2 separate regions of the Homo sapiens genome follow, and region 2 is linked to region 1. A link means that fine-mapping ties the variant in region 1 to the expression of a gene that starts in the linked region. Tissue or cell type: whole blood. Region 1 holds a variant in brackets; the other region holds the start of a gene. All regions are shown on one strand. Distances are from middle to middle.

What was found. PIP is the estimated chance that this variant, and not a neighbour inherited with it, causes the effect.
Region 2: TSPAN33 starts here. The variant in region 1 is fine-mapped to the expression of TSPAN33 in whole blood (INTERVAL, PIP 0.98).

Annotation. Positions count from the first base shown.
Region 1 is chr7:129,114,310-129,122,415 of GRCh38, forward strand. It overlaps the pseudogene CYCSP20. Among named protein-coding and RNA genes, the nearest start is that of TSPAN33, 26 kb to the right of the region's middle. RefSeq lists an enhancer at 7,926-8,095. The variant C/T (reference allele first, on the strand shown) is at 4,770.
Region 2 is chr7:129,140,830-129,148,935 of GRCh38, forward strand. TSPAN33 (tetraspanin 33) reads left to right here and starts at 3,878. Exons shown (of 8, transcript NM_178562.5): 1 at 3,878-4,253. The coding sequence starts at 4,152. RefSeq lists a silencer at 3,791-4,000 and an enhancer at 6,863-6,912.

The sequences.
Region 1 (8,106 bases):
GTGTCCACATTCCTAGCAGAAGCAGATCTGCTGCCTGCCCCTTGCCCCTCACAGTACATGCCAACCCCCATCCCCAGCAAGACACCTTATATGCAAAGCTATTTGGCCGGGCACGGTGGCTCACGCCTGTAATCCCAACACTTTGGGAGGCTGAGGCAGGCAGATCACCTGAGGTTAGGAGTTCAGGACCAGCCTGGCCAACATGGCAAAACCCTATCTCTACTAAAAATACAAAAATTAGCTAGGCGTGGTGGCAGATGCCTGTGATCCTAGCTACTAGGGCGGCTGAGGCAGGAGAATAGTTTGAACCCAGGAGGTGGAGGCTGCAGTGAGCTGAGATCACACCACTTCATTCCAGGCTGGCAATAGAGCGAGGCCTCATCTCAGAAAAAAAAAAAAGAAAGAAAGAAAGAAAAGAAAAGTTATTTTCTGGAAAGATGTACAAGACTTAAAGTGGTCACTGGGGATAAGGGTGGAGGAGAGGGACTGTCACTTTTTATACTTTTTATTATGTGCATGAACTACTTAAAATTTTTTTTAAAACAAAGTGAATCTTTAATGTTTATAAGAAAAAATGTGTATAGGAGAAAAGATAGGAAAGAAATATTCCAAATGCTAGCAAGTGACAGATGTATTGACAATGAAGTCATGCGTGATTATTTTCTTTTTTCAATTCTTTCCCAAATTTTTTGGTAAAGTGATGATATAATTTTATACCAAAGATAACTTAAAAAAATAGAACCATGTAAAAGCTAAAGAAACCCTTCAGAGATGTTTTTGGAAAGAAAAATTTAAATGAAATAAGCAAATAAATACATATGCTCCTCCCAAATGTATCATTTTGGGAAAAATATCTGGATTTCCATACCTTGTTTTGCATAAAGCAGGGCTGACCCAGACTCCCTCTGTCCTTTTGGTGCTGGCGGTCGTGATTGCTGCTGGCAAGTATAGGAATCAGAGAGCTGAGCAAATAACATTTTCTGTCATCCATGCTGGCCCAAGTCTGTTTCTGGGGTAATAAGCTGGGAAACAGCAGTGAGGTTTTAGAAGCATAGAGATGATGATAAAGCTCCTTGATAAGAGAAGTGAAGTTAGGAACAAAGCCTGCTTGACTGCTCCAGTGTTGCTGAACATAGTCTACCTGAATCTATTCTACAGGAATCTACTCAGCCACAGACCTACCTGCAGGGATGACCTTGGATTGCTGTTAGCAGATTCCCTCAGCATCAGCCCTCATATGCCTCTTTCCTCCTTCGTTAGTAATCTCTTATGTAGTCCCCATAAGACTCCCAACCCCTATGAGGCTTACCCTTAATCTCTAAACTCTGGACTAACAAAGGTTTCTGGTGATTCCCTCTCCTGAGCACTTGCCATGGCTTTTACCAAATCCATATCAGGGAGCAGAAAGGGTGAGTTGATGACTGGGTAGAAGATGACTAAAGTGACCATATTTCTAACAAACAAGTTTAAGTGTGGACCAGGCAGAGCCAGGCAAGATGAATGAGGGACTGGAAGAAAGCCAGCTCTTTCCTTTCTCTCCAGCACCAAGACTCAGCCCCAGGCTGTGGGAGTAGGAATAAGATAGTTAAGAGTGGTATTGTTTTCCCTTGGGACTCTCCATTGCTTTTAGAATTCCAAGCTTAAGAGATATTGCCTTATATTATTTGTTTATTCATGTTATTACTTCAGCTTGGCCACCATATTTTATACACCAGTGCAAATTGTTTCATAGTTTGCCTATGGTTGTGTGTTAATGCCAGTACAGGCCATCAAAATCCAGAGCATCTCAACATTTGAGGATGTCCCAGGGCTGGGTCTGACCCTTCTCTTTTTTTTTTTTTTTTTTTTTTCCTGAGACAGAATTTCACTCTTGTTGACCCAGGCTGGAGTGCAATGGCACAATCTCAGCTCACTGCAATCTGTGCCTCCAGGGTTCAAGAGATTCTCCTGCCTCAGCCTCCCAAGTAGCTGGGATTACTGGAATTAATTAGCCACCACGCCTGGCTAATTTTGTATTTTTAGTAGAAAGAGGGTTTCTCCATGTTGGTCAGGTTGGTCTTGAACTCCCGACCTCAGGTGATTCACTCGCCTTGGCCTCCCAAAGTGCTGGGATTACAGGTGTGAGCCACTGCACCTGGCCAGTCTGACCCTTCTAACCCTTACATTCAAAGAATCAAGCTGACTTCCAAGATGGGAGAATTGAGGAATGTTCCTGTTCACAGACATTCTCAACCTTGTGTAAGAGAATAGGATGGCAATGAGAACACATGGACACAGGGAGGGGAACATCACACACCAGGGCCTGCCAGTGGGTGGGGGACAGGGGGAGGGATAGCATTAGGACAAATACCTAATGCATGCGGGGCTTAAAACCTAAATGATGGGTTGATGGGTGCAGCAAACCACCATGGCACATGTACACCTATGTAACAAACCTGCACGTTCTGCACATGTATCCAGAACTTAAAGTATAATAAATAATAATAATAATAATAATAATTTAAAAATAAAATAGGTGAGTGGCAAAGAGTACTGGCCTGGGACCAAATTCAGAGCTGGCAAACTCCTGGAATAGAAAGTTGTCCCCTTGTAATATACATCCAGAAGCTCCTGAGATTTTCAGCTGGTTTCCTGCTATTAACCTGAATTTGGTTTTACTTGATGGATTCTGGTCCCTTTCTCTGGTCCTGTTTTAAGCTTGGGCCATGATGTCCTGGGGCTTGAGGGTGAGGAGCAGGAGCCTCTGTAAGGGGAATAGGAATGGTGTGTGGAGGGGCACAGGGCGGGTAAATCCAGAGGAGTTTTCAGAGGGTGTCAAGATTCCACGTTCCAGTTTCAGGCCTGTACAGAGCTAGGAGCATCTGAGGCTGGGTAAGGATTTAAGGAAAAAGAGAGAAGATCCCAGAAACAAAACAGCAAAATAACATTATGAAAGCTGGGGGACTGGCAAATGCAATGTGACATTTTGTTCTTTTTTTTAAATTGACATATAATAATTGTATATATTCATGGGGTACATAGAGATGTTTTGATACATATAATATACAGTGATTAGATAAGGGTAATTTGCATATCCATCATCTCATTTACCATTTCTCTTTTTTCTTTTTGAATTCTGGTGTATGAAATCTATTAAATTACGATACATATAAAAAATTCATGAGACATTTCTCTTTTGTAATAAATAACGCAGTGGCCAATTATTTCTCATGAGCAGCTTTTTTGAGATAAGCTATCAAGTCCGCCCTTTCTCCCTTCTTCTTAATGCCGCCAAAGATCATTTTTGTTCCAGGTATCTAATTCTTTGGATTCTCCAAATACTCTATCAGTGTGTCCTCTCCCCAGGTGATGCCTTTGTTCTTACTGGTGTCTGTGTAGCAGAATCCAATGGCACCTGTCTTCCACCCAAAGAGACCATGGAGGTTAGGCTCAGTCTTGTGCTTGCCTCCCTTTTCCGTGGTGTGGCACTGGGCACACTTCTGAACACAAATATTCGTGCTTTTCTCAACATCACCCATATTTAATTCTCTCTTTTGTCACTGGCACTGTGAAGGTTCCTACTCAGAAACCAGATGTCCTGCTCTCTCATTTTTCATTTCTTTGTGTTAAGAACATTCTATATCCATTTTTTAGCTACTTTTTTTTTAGACGGAGTCTTGCTCTGTTGCCAAGGCACACTCTCACCTGACTGCAATATCTGCCTCCTGGGTTCAAGCAATCCTCCTGCCTCAGCCTCCCTAGTAGCTGGGATTACAGGTGCATGCCACCCCACCCAGCTAACTTTTGTATTTTCAGTAGAGATGGGGTTTCGTCATGTTGGCCAGGCTGGTCTCGAACTCCTGACCTCAAGTGATCCGCCTGCCTCGGCCTCCCAAAGTCCTGGGATTACAGGCATGGGCCACTGTGCCTGGCCCGTTTTAGCTATTTGAAGCTATATATTGTTACATCCAGTCATCCTACAGTGGTATAGAACAGGGGTCCCCAGCCCCTGAGCCATGGTCGCATAACAACGGTCTATGGCCTGTTAGGAACCGGGCCACACAGCAGGAGGTAAGCAACAGGCTACTGAGTGAAGCTTTATCTGTATTTACAGCTGCTCCCCATTGCTCACATTACGGCCTGACCTCCGCCTCCTGTCAGATCAATGGCAGCATTAGATTCTCACAGGAGTGCGAACCCTATTGTGAACTGCACATGCCAGGCTCCTTATGAGAATCTAATGCCTGATGATCTGTCACTGTCTCCCATCACCCCCAGATGGGACTGTCTAGTTGCAGGAAAACAAACTTAGGGCTCCCACTGATTCCACATTATGGTGAGTTGTACGATTATTTCATTACATATTAATATTACGATGTAATAATAATAGCAATAAAGTGCATAATAAATGTAATGCGCTTGAATCATCCTGAAACCATCCCCCACTCCCTGGTCTGTGGAAAAATTGTCTTCCATGAAACCAGTCCCTGGTGCCAAAAATGTTGGGGACCACTGGTATAGAACTCTAGAACTTATTCCTTCTATCTAGCTGTAATTTTGTATCATTTAATAAACATCTCTCTAACTCCCACTTCCCTCTGCCCTTCAAGCCTCTAGTATCCTCTGTTTTACTTTTTACTTTTATGAAGTCAACTTTTCTTAGCTTCCACAAAGGAGTGAGAACATGCAGTATTTAACTTTCTGTTCCTGGCTTAATTCACTTAACATAATGTGCTCCAATTCTATCCGCATTACTTCAAATAACTGGATTTCATTCTTTTTTTAATAGC[C/T]GAATAGTGTTCTATTGTGTACGTATACCACATTCTCTTTATCCATTCATCTGTTATTGAACACCTAGGTTGAGTCCATATTTTGGCTATTGTGAATAGTGATGCAATAAACATAGGGGCACAGATGTCTCTTTGATATACTGATTTCTTTCCCTTTGAATAAATGCCCAGTAGTGGGATTGCTGTATCATATGGTAGTTCTATTTGTAGTTTTTTGAGGAACCTCCAACTCTTCTCCATAGTGGCTGTACTAGTTTACATTCCCACCAACAGTGAATAAGAGTTCCATTTTTCCACATCCTCACCAGCATTTGTTATTTTTTTGTGTTTCTGATAATAGCATCCTAACCAGAGTGAGATGATACTTCTTGATGGTTTTGATTTGTGTTTCCCTGATGATTAGTAATATTGAGCATTATTTTATATATTTGTTGACCATCCATTTGTATGTCTTCTTTTGAGAAATATCTGTTCAGATCATTTGCCCTTTTATTTATTTATTTTATTTATTTTTATTTTTTTTGAGACAGGCTTGCTCTGTCACCCAGGCTGGAGTACAGTGGCACGATCACAGCTCACTACAACCTCTGCCTCCCAGGTTGAAGCCATTCTCCTGCCTCAGCCTCCCGAGTAGCTGAGATTACACCCATGTGCCACCACCACACCCGGATAATTTTTTATATTTTTAGTAGAGAGGGGGTTTCACCATGTTGGCCAGGCTGGTCTCCAACTCCTGACCTCAAGTGATCCACCCTCCTGACCTCAAATGATCTGCCTGCCTTGGCCTCCCAAAGTGCTGGGATTACAGGTGTGAGCCACCATGCCTGGCCCATTTGCCCATTTTTTAAATTGAATTATTTGCTTTTTTGCTATTGAAGTGTTTGAATTCCTTGTATGTTCTAGATAATAATCCCTTGTTGGATGAATAGTTTACAAATATTTTCTCTCATTCTGTTGATTGTCTTTTCACTCTATTGATTATTTCCTTTGCTGTGTAGAAGCTTTTTAGTTTGATATAATCCCATTTGTTTATTGTTACTTTTGTTGCCTATGCTTTTGAAGTCTTATAAAATCTTTTCCCAGACCCATGTCCTGAAGCATTTCCCCATGTTTTCTTCTAGTAGTTTTATAGGGTTGGGTCTTACATTTAGGTCTTTGATCCACTTTGAGTTGATTTTTGTATAGGATGAAAGTCAGGAATCTAGTTTCATGCTTTTGCATATGAATATCCAGTTTTGCCTCAACCATTTATTGAAGAGACTATCAATAAGGGTTCTTGGCACCTTTGTCAAAAAACAGTTGGTTATAGATACATGGATTAATTTCTGGGTTCTCTATTGTTCCAGTGTTCTATGTGTTTGTTTTTATGCCAGCGCCATGCTGTTTTGCTTACTACAGCTTTGTAGGATATTTTAAAGTCTGGTAGTGTGATGCCTCCAGCTTTCTTTTTGCTCAAGATTGCTTTGACTATTTAGGGTCTTTTGTGGTTCCATATACATTTTAAGATTTTTTTTCTATTTCTATGAAGAATGTCGTTGGTATTTTGATAGGAATTGCATTAAATCTATAAATTTCTTTGTGTAGTAAGATTTTGTTCTGAATGCTAAAACTGTAGGTATAAATAGGATGGCACTGCTGGCCCAGAGGAAGGCCTGATTAGCCAGGGTGCCCCCTAATAGCTCTGACTTCACTAGTACCCAACCTTCTCTCAGTACTTTGAGGGATTAAGACAAAAATATCACATCATAAGTCTGATGCTGAAACAAGTTTGTTCCTTTAATGAGATAGTTTTTGACAAATTGGATCCAACATCTCCTGTTAAAATGGAAATACATATTTAGAGTCGTGGTAGGGCAGGTAGACAAGTAACAAGCCTGAGTGGCCATCACCACATTGGTATGAATTAATTTAGGAACAAAGAAAAACTTCCTGGGAGGATATGATCTATAATGGGATGGTTGGGGGGGGGGGTTGTTAGTGGTGGTGGTAATGGGTTATTTTAGTTTTGAATGTGTGTGTTGCAGGGAAGGAAAAAGGTTGGTGGAGAGTTCAGAGCCAAAGCCATGCTGAATGACAGGTGGAAGACAGTCTGATGGATCATAGTCACTGTTCTTAAAGAATACATAATTCAGGCTTGCATGAGACAAGATGAACCACTGACATCCTAATTTCTCAAAGTAGTCATTGGAAATGGAAAGAAGAGCCAGGATTTATTGGAGGGTATATTCACACAGAAGGGGTTCATGAAGGTGAGGGACCCTTTCACCTCCCCACTGGGCAGAAAGCACTTGCCAGAAGAAAGGGTTGCAAAAGAAGGTTGAACTCAGCAAGAAAAGTGCCTTGGGTCAGTCTCTGTACTGCTAAATAGGGCCTACCACCCTACCCTGCCAATCCCTACATAGGCCCTGTCTTCAGTAAACACTAGAGTTCGCTTACCTTCCATTCCAAGAACCAATCTGACATCTGCTGTATTAGTCTGTTTTCACACTGCTGATAAAGACATACCCGAGACTGGCTAATTTACAAAAGAAAGAGCTTTAATGGACTTACAGTTCCACATGGCTTGGGAAGCCTCACAATCATGGCGGAAGGCAAGGAGGAGCAAGTCACATCTTACATGGATGGCAGCAGGCACAGAGAGGGCTTGTGCAGGGAAACTCCTATTTTTAAAACCATCAGATCTCATGAGACTTATTCACTATCATGAGAACAGCATGGGAAAGACCTGCCCTCATGATTCAATTATCTCCCACCCAGTCCCTCCCACAACATGTGGGAATTCAAGATGAGATTTGGGTGGGAACACAGCCAAACCACATCATCTGCTGTGCCTCATCCCACAGATAGCAGAGCTTCCTCCTAATCTATCAAGAGTTCAGCATTTAGTGAGTGGTCAGGATCTCACCCTTCATTTAACCAACTAACCACCACCAACCAACCACCACCATCAGAGGTGGGCCTAAGGCAGGCCTTGGGGTCTCTGGGAAGTGGGCCATGCTCAGTCTACATCCCAATGTGCTATGGCTCCTGACACTCTGAGCAGGGGCTCTCCCTTGCACACACCAAAGGAATGACTGGGCTTAAAAAACGTGCCAACTTGCTTATAAATCAGTCTCCTCAGATTCTACAATTCACCGAGCCATAAAACCTCAGAGCTTCAAAGATGCTTAGAAAATATCAAGGCCAGGGTTCCCAGGAAGCCTCAATGCTGCCATTTTACAAAGGAAGAAACTGAAGTGCAGAGAGATTAAGGGGCTTGTCCAGGTCACACAGCTACTTAGTGGTAGATCTGTAACTAGAAAGGTTTCAGTTCACACTCAATGTTCTTTCCTCTAGA
Region 2 (8,106 bases), 27 kb after region 1:
ACATGTCCCGTCACAACAACACAGCTGATTTTACTTTTATATTTTTTCATCTCTGTTGAAATTGGCCCATATTTCTTACTGTGAATATGTTTATATTGTTAAAATCTTACATACTATTACATAAGTTTTTTGGGTTCCATTTTTTGTTTGTTTGTTTTCTTTTGTTTTTTTTGTGTGTGTTTTTGGAGACAGAATTTCTGTCACCCTGGCTGGAGTGCAGTGGTGCAATCTTGGCTCACTGCAACCTCCACCTCCTGGGTTCAAGCAGTTCTTGTGCTTCGGCCTCCCAAGTAGTTGAGATTACAGGTGCACACCACCACGCCCAGCGAAGTTTTGTATTTTTAGTAGGGATAGAGTTTTGCCATGTTGGCCAGGCTGGTCTCAAACTCCTGGCCTCAAGTCAGCTGCCCACCTTGGCCTCCCAAAGTGCTGGGATTACAGGCATGAGCCACCACTTCTGCTTTGAATTCCATTTTAAATGGCCACATTATATATTCCACATAACTGAAATACCTTTTCCATTGAATTCCATTTTAAATGGCCACATTATGTATTCCAAAGAACTGAATACCTTTTCCAAGGACTTGAAATAAGTTGAAACTATTCACTGATTGTCAGATACTCTGTATACTTTATTCTACAACCTGATTTTTGCACCTCATATGTCATGGACCTTTTTGCAAGTCAGTACATATGTTTTCTATGTTATTTTAAATGGCTGCGTAGCATTCTATAGTAAAGATACATTTTTCCAATTTTTAAATTCTTTTTGATTTTTCAATTTGTGTAATTTTTTCATTTTGAATCATTAATACACTTTATGCTGCAAAGAAAAAAAAACAAAAAAAAAACAAAGAATAAAATGGCACACAGTGAAAAGTCTCTCTCCTCTCTTTTCAGTTCTCATCACCATCCCAGTATGTAACCTCCTTTCTTAATGTCTTACGTTTCCTTCCAGAGTTTATTTAGGCAGAGGGAAGCAAATATAAATGTTATTCCTTATTTTTGTTTTCTCTCTTTCTCTTTAACCAGAATGTGATATATTGTATCCACTGTCCCACTTGTTGCTTTTTTTTTTTTTTTTTTTTTGAGACGGAGTCTTGCTCTGCCGCCCAGGCTGGAGTGCAGTGGTGCGATCTCGGCTCACTGCAACCTTCGCCTCCCAGGTTCATGCCATTCTCCTTCCTCAGCCTCCCGAGTAGCTGGGACTACAGGTGCCCGCCACCACACCCGGCTAATTTTTTTGTATTTTTAGTAGAGACAGGGTTTCACCGTGTTAGCCAGGATGGTCTTGATCTCCTGACCTCGTGATCTGGCTGCCTCGGCCTCCCAAAGTGCTGGGATTACAGGCATGAGCCACCCCGGCCTCATTTTGCTTTTTAAACGTAATGAGTTAACTTGGAGATCGTTCCAACTCAGTACAGAGAGAGTTTCCTAATTCTTTGTTCTATAGCTGCATGGCTTCCTACTTTGTGATGCCGTCCGTGACTTCCACATGAGGGACATTGTGGTCATCACTTTGAAGGCTAATCCCATCTCTACCTGTTAATTCCAAAACCTCATTCCAGCCATTATCCACCTTAATCCCTCTTGACTGTTTTGTTTTGTTTTGTTTTGTTTTGTTTCCTACGAACATGTTAGGTCTCTTATATGCTAACAGAGAACTTTCCCTTCACTCTGAAGTCCCTTAAGGCTCCCATAACCTTCAAAGCCAGACAGAGATGTCCACAGTTTCGTTCACAGCTTCCATTTCACCACCCATTCCTTCCTTGACACTGTGATATTCCTTCTTCTTCCCGTCTCAATTAAAAATGATCTCTTGGCTGGGCACAGTGGCTCATGCCTGTAATCCCAGCACTTTGGGAGGCCCATGCAGGTGGATCACCTAAGGTCAGGAGTTCAGACCATCCTGGCCAGCATGGTGAGACCCCATCTCTACTAAAAATACAAAAACTAGCCAGGCATGGTGGCGGGCGCCTGTAATCCCAGCTACTTGGGAGACTGAGGCAGGAGAATCGCTTGAACCAGGGAGGCGGAGGTTGCAGTGAGCTGAGATCAGGCCACTGCACTCCAGCCTGGGCGACAGAGTGAGACTCCGTTTCAAAAAAATAAAACTGATTTCTGGAAGATCATCTAATAGAAACATTCAGCATCTTGGTCTATTTCTCTATCCTCCCCGCACTAACATCTGAAAATGGCACCTACCTATTCACTCATTAACCTCTTGGAAAATGACTTCTGCCCACCCTACCTGCTTTATACTAAAACTGATCTCCAGTGTCACTTAACCTGTTAAGGGCCAGTAATCTCCCAGTAACCTGGCTGTGACTGCCTTCTTTAACCTCCACTCTTGGTGCTCCTGTTATGCCTGCTTGTCACCACAGCCTAGCCCTAGAGATTCTATCTTTCCAATGCCTTCCCTTCTATCCTCTCCTAACCATCTATTATTCTGTCTATTACTCCTAAATCAGTTCCTGATTTCTGATTATCTGGATGATGAGCAGCATGCTTCTAACAAATCTTTCTCTCTCCAGCCTCTTTCCCACTCCAACTGAAAACCATGGGTTTTCCATCATCCTTTTCTCCAAAACTCTTATTTCCAAGTCAATTAAGCACTAACTCCCCAATCTGATATTCAATTACTTCCGCAGTTTTAACACAATTCCACATGTAACGGCATCGGTCAGCATTATGTCCCACTGCTATTCCAAGCATACCCTGTGCTCCAGCCACAGCAGTCTGCTTATTTTGCACGAAACACATGGCGTGCTTTTGCACCTCCAGGCTTTGGTTCACCCCCTTTTTTTTTAATCCACCTGGATTATGTTTCCCCTCCGTCTCTACTATTCTAAATCCCATCCTCCCCTAATTTCACTTGCCACGCTATCTTCACTAACCTTCTACCAAACGTATTATAATTATTTGTGCGGTTATCATATTTCCACACTGGATTCTTAATTCTGCTAAAACGAAATACTGTAATGCCTTTGATGAGCCTTCCATGTGCCAGCCATGTGCTAAGTGAGCTACATGCATTATCTCATTTAATCCTCAAATCGCCATCTAGGTCAGGACTCTCCCATTTAACATTAAACAAACTGAGGCTCCGAGAGATTAAGTAGCTTGCAGCTTTCACGCAGCTAATTATGGTGGAATCAGATTCCCTCCCCGAGGTTCAACTTGTATTAGTTAGGGTAGCCAGCATAATATATTCGCCAGCTACGCTGCACTCAACCTGTGTGTGCCGGATCAGCATGTTAAAAACGGTGTCTGCAAGTAGACCAAGGGAAGAGGGGCTGCGGGGGCGGGAATTGAGACAGCAATGAATTAGGATGGCGGGATTGGCGGTGATGTTTCCAAATTTCCACTGTTGGGTTGTAGAGCTTCTGAAATAAGCATTTAAAATGTATAGTTACTAAACAAGATTGCATCTACCCTTGGTCTAATTGTTATGTGTAGGTTAGTTTTGTCTCCCTGATTTTATTGTCATCCCCCAGGGATTGTTTCTGTTCTCCCGCGTTCCCAGAGCTTTCGGCGCATTGCTCAACACACGGTGTGCGTACTTGTTGATTTTAATGTATGTGTGTTTGCATATGTGCACAGCAGCTGGGCGGAGGACGTGGGTGTGGGATGCACTGTGCATTCCTTCTCCTCACTCTTGTTCCTTTGAGCAGCTGCAGCCTGGATGCTTTCCCTTAGGGGTAGGGGAGAGGCAGAACCGCTGACCCTTTAACAAGTTATCCCTCACAGAACAGGTGTCTCCCCCGACTCTCGGTGGAGAGGGATGGCTGGATACTTAGTGACATCAGCCACGAGCCAATGGGAAGTCGGGCTCCAGCCGTCGCGCCAATGAGCGGCCGGGGGCGGGCCGGGTTTCCTGGGCGCCTGGCTGGCCGGGCTGGTCCTGCGGCCGCGGGTGAGTCTCGTCCGCTCGCGCTGCCCACCGCGGCTCCAGCAGCTCCAGGCGCGGTTCCCCGGCCCGCGCCGCTCCCGGCCCCCCGGCTCGGGCGCCTCCCGCCGCAGCGCAGGCTCCCCCGCCGGCCGGGCTCCTGCGCGGCGCGGCTCGGCTCATGCCCCCGGGCGCGGGGCACACAGGCCGGCCGGCAGCCGCTGGGAAATAGGCCCCCGGGGGCGGTGGCGGCGGCGGGGCCATGGCGCGGAGACCCCGGGCGCCGGCCGCCTCCGGGGAGGAGTTCTCCTTCGTCAGCCCGCTGGTGAAATACCTGCTCTTCTTCTTCAACATGCTCTTCTGGGTGAGTCTCGGGGTCGAGGGCACCTGGGCGGCGGGGTCCCCCCGCGGGGTGGAAGGGTGGCCCGGGGTGCCCCACGCGCGGGAGCCGCACTGCCGAGTTTTCTGGGCTGACGGCACTTTGGGGGAATTTATCCTGGGGAGGGACACCCCGGGGACGCCGCGTCTGCAGGGGGCGTTGTAGGGAGGAGGGTATGCCAGGGAATCAGTAAAGACTGATGGGTATTCTCGGGGCGTCGGAGGAGGGTCTGTGTTAGGCTAGAAATGTGGGTTTGAGGGAGCCTGTTGGCCCAAGGCGGACCCACTGACACATTCATGATGGGGGTCGGGGGTGGCGGCTGACTTTCAGGCCTGGGGGCCTGGAGGCCCGGCTGGCAAAGAAAGAAGAGGAAGGAAAAACCCAAACCTCTCTCTCCACCACCTCAGAGAGGATGGGTTACTGGCATCATCTCTTCCTTTTGCAGGCCTCATCTACCCCCACCTCCACCCCCCCAAAGTCTAGGAAGAATGGCCTCCAGGTGCAGATGTCTTTCCCATCCCAGCACTGCCCCAAACTTTGTCCCCTCCCTGCCACCCTTCTCAGGACCAGACTTCACCCCTGGAGCCTGGCAATCACCAGTGTCTTTAAACAGGACCCCGTGTTGGGCCGGAGGGCCAGGGGTCCTTTCAGAATCTTCTGCTTGGGGTGGAAAAAGTATTGGGCTGGGACTCCGGACACCTGGATTCCCATCCCACTCTGCCGTTCATTGTTGACTTGACCGACCTAAGCATGTATGTTCATGTCTGCAGGCCTTGACTCCCTCCCCCACAAATCCAACCCAGTGTGATCAGGGGTGGCAGAAAGACTGCTGAAGCTGAGAATTGAGCTGAACCAGATCATGCAATGCCAGCTCGACCCTGTTTCCTGGCTAGAGAGTCCTGGAGGTCCTGGGGTGTGAGAACATAGGGACATCCTTCCCCCATTCACCTCCTCTTCTGGCTCCTACCACACCAGAGCTGCTGCTTCTGGAGCCCACCATCCTTGCCCACTTCAGCTGGAGACCTAAAGTTCAGACTTGCAGGAGGGAAGAATTGAGTCTAAAATATGTTTCCTAGGGGAGGGAGCAGAACAGACATCTAAGCCATTTGCTGGAAAGGTTTCACAGGGCCCGTGGGGTGAGGTGCAGACACAAAGCCCATAAGTGCTGGCCTGTTGGGACAAATGAGAGAAATCCCATAGGGTGGTGATGACAGCGCACTCAGCCATCCTACTCCTGGGGAAAATGAAACTTGTGCTCCTATCAAATGCTCAGTTGTAAAACTGGAAAAAAATTTTAGAAGACATCTTGTCCAGCATCTGTGTTTATGTCTATAAAATGTAGAAAACTAAAGCACAGAGATGTTAAATGTTTTGTCCAAGGTCCAACAGCTGGTTAGCAGGCTTGGTCTGGTGACCTTTCTACTGAACCACAGTGCCGCTGGGGGAAGTCCTCAGCACAGATGGCTGCTGCTATAGCTGGGGTATGGGCAGTATTAGTAGTTAACCAGTCAACCCAAGTTCCCATAGTCTAGGTTCTGCTTCAGCTGGAGGTTAGGGAAAAACACAAGAAAATCCCTTACCACTCTACCAGTGCTGGGGGATGTACTAAGAGACTCCCCACTTAGGGGCAAGTATCAGTGAAGTCTCTGTGCTCACTGAGTGTGCCAGGCCAGTGACGTGACATCCTCGGAGCCAGCACTAGCATTTCAGGGACTTTAGGTCGTCACTCTGACTTCCTTTATCTGCCGAGACTGTCTCCCTTGGAGCCATTGGTACCTCACCCTTGTCTGTGCTCGCCAGTGACAACAGCTGGGTGCATCTGTTACACTTGTGTTCCTGGTCATTTTTTTTTTCTCGAGCTTCCCTACCCCCTACCTCCACCCTACCCCCCTTTTATCGGACAAACGACTTTGAGAGATCTCAGCCAGGAGAGAGTTTGGCTCCACAGACCCATTTACCTTGGTAAAAATGCTTCATTCAAGGTCAGAAGACGTGGGTGGCCAAGCTAGCACCACCCCAAATTAGAATAGAGCCCCTTCTTGGCCCTACAGTAGACTCATAAAAAATCAGAGGCTCTAGAAATAGCACACTGAAAGACAAGAGGCTCAGCATCTTTTTGGCACCAACTTACTGTGTGACCCTAAGCCAATGTATCTGTCTCTCTGACCTTAATCTTTCTCCTCTAAAGGAGAAACAATTTCTGCCTCAGTGAACTATTTAAGGATGAATGAATCATTTTGGGGACTGTTTTCTTTCTTCAAGACCTAGAGCTGGATCTAAGGATGAATCTCCCTGTGTCCTGATTGCCCTTCCTAGGGGACAGTACTTTTCAGGTGTTATTGAATGTCCCTTCTCCCCCAAACCCAGTGCTGCACAGGTATATTCATACAAGAGCAGCTGGAGAGAAAATGCTGCCTCCCCAGATCAGGGGGCCATCTTTCTTCCTAGCTCCTCTTCAGGGACTGGTTCCCATGCTTTCTTTTTTGTAGACTTCCACCATCCTAATCAAATTCTGCTCTTCTGCCCAGGAAGCACCTATGGATGAGATGATGGTCAGCCCACACCCTTTGCAGGCAGAGTGCATGCTCTGGCCGGCTTCTGGAGCTGCCGCATGGCAGTGGTTATTGTGTCTGTGCCTGGAACCCACTAGGAAGGTGTCCGGCATCCTCTGGGCTCTGAATAGTGGTGCTGGTGGTGATGGTGGCTACGTCTGCTGTTGCTCTAGAAGCCCTGACTCTTGGGGCATTTGGAGTCTGACTCAGAAAACTAATGAATTTTGGGGGACTGGGACCAGTTCCTACTGTTCATGTTTCAAATCTCACTTCCCCTTTGACCTGGGAGTTCTGATTTTCTTCCCAGAATCATGTTGCTGGGTTACTGACTGTGGGGATTCCATGGCCTGGAGTAGCTGCTCTAAGATCCTAGATGTTGCATTTAAATCAGTTAGGGTGGCTACAGAGCAGCTGCCTCTCCTCACCTCCCTCTGCAGGACAGCTCCGTGCAGATATTGGGGTGGTGCCTGCTTTCTCAGCTTGGCCATGTGTTGTCAGGAATATTCAGTGCCGCCCACCTCCTTCCTCGCTGGTCCTTTTCCCACTCAGGGCAGCAGTTGGCTGGCTTTTGAGTCAGGCAGAGCCCAGAAGCTCAGACCTCCAGCCCCTGTGTCTCAGCCCAGGCTTCCCTAGCAGCCATGCCTCAGGGCTCCCATGGCACCTTCTGTATTCTTCTATTGTCACATCCCTTACCTGTGCTGCAATTGTGTTTACTTCTCCGTCTCCCCCTCTAGACTTCGGGCTCTCGAGGGTGGGCACGGCCCTATTCACTTCTGGATCCCCAGTGCCCAGCTGTGTTTGGCATAAATTGGGTGCTTACTGAATGTTTATTGGATGGTGAGTGAGAGAGCAAACCCCACAGGGTAGAGGCTTGATGCCCATCCTCCCTTCCTCATGGACACTGGCCTGTCAAGATGCAGCTCAACCTGGGGTCCTTGAGCACTCTTGGTGATGAGGTACCCAACTGTGTTCTCCTCTGTGGTGGGTCTGGCGGCCTGGCAACCCTCCACTTAAGCCAGGTCAGAAACATGGCAGCCATCCCCTCCTCAGAGCCACACGTACTTACTGCCTACAGCATCTGGATTTTCTCACTTCCACTGCCACATATATGCACCCTTGTCCAGGTCTTCCCTAGGCTGAGCCAAGCCACCAGTGGGGCATCTTCTTCAAGAAATCCACTCTCCCATCCAGGACTACTGTATTGGAGTCCTTGGGCACTCAGAATCACCCAGGCCACTCTCAGCACCATTTCTTTTCGTCTGGCTCAAAAACCATGAGGAAGTAAC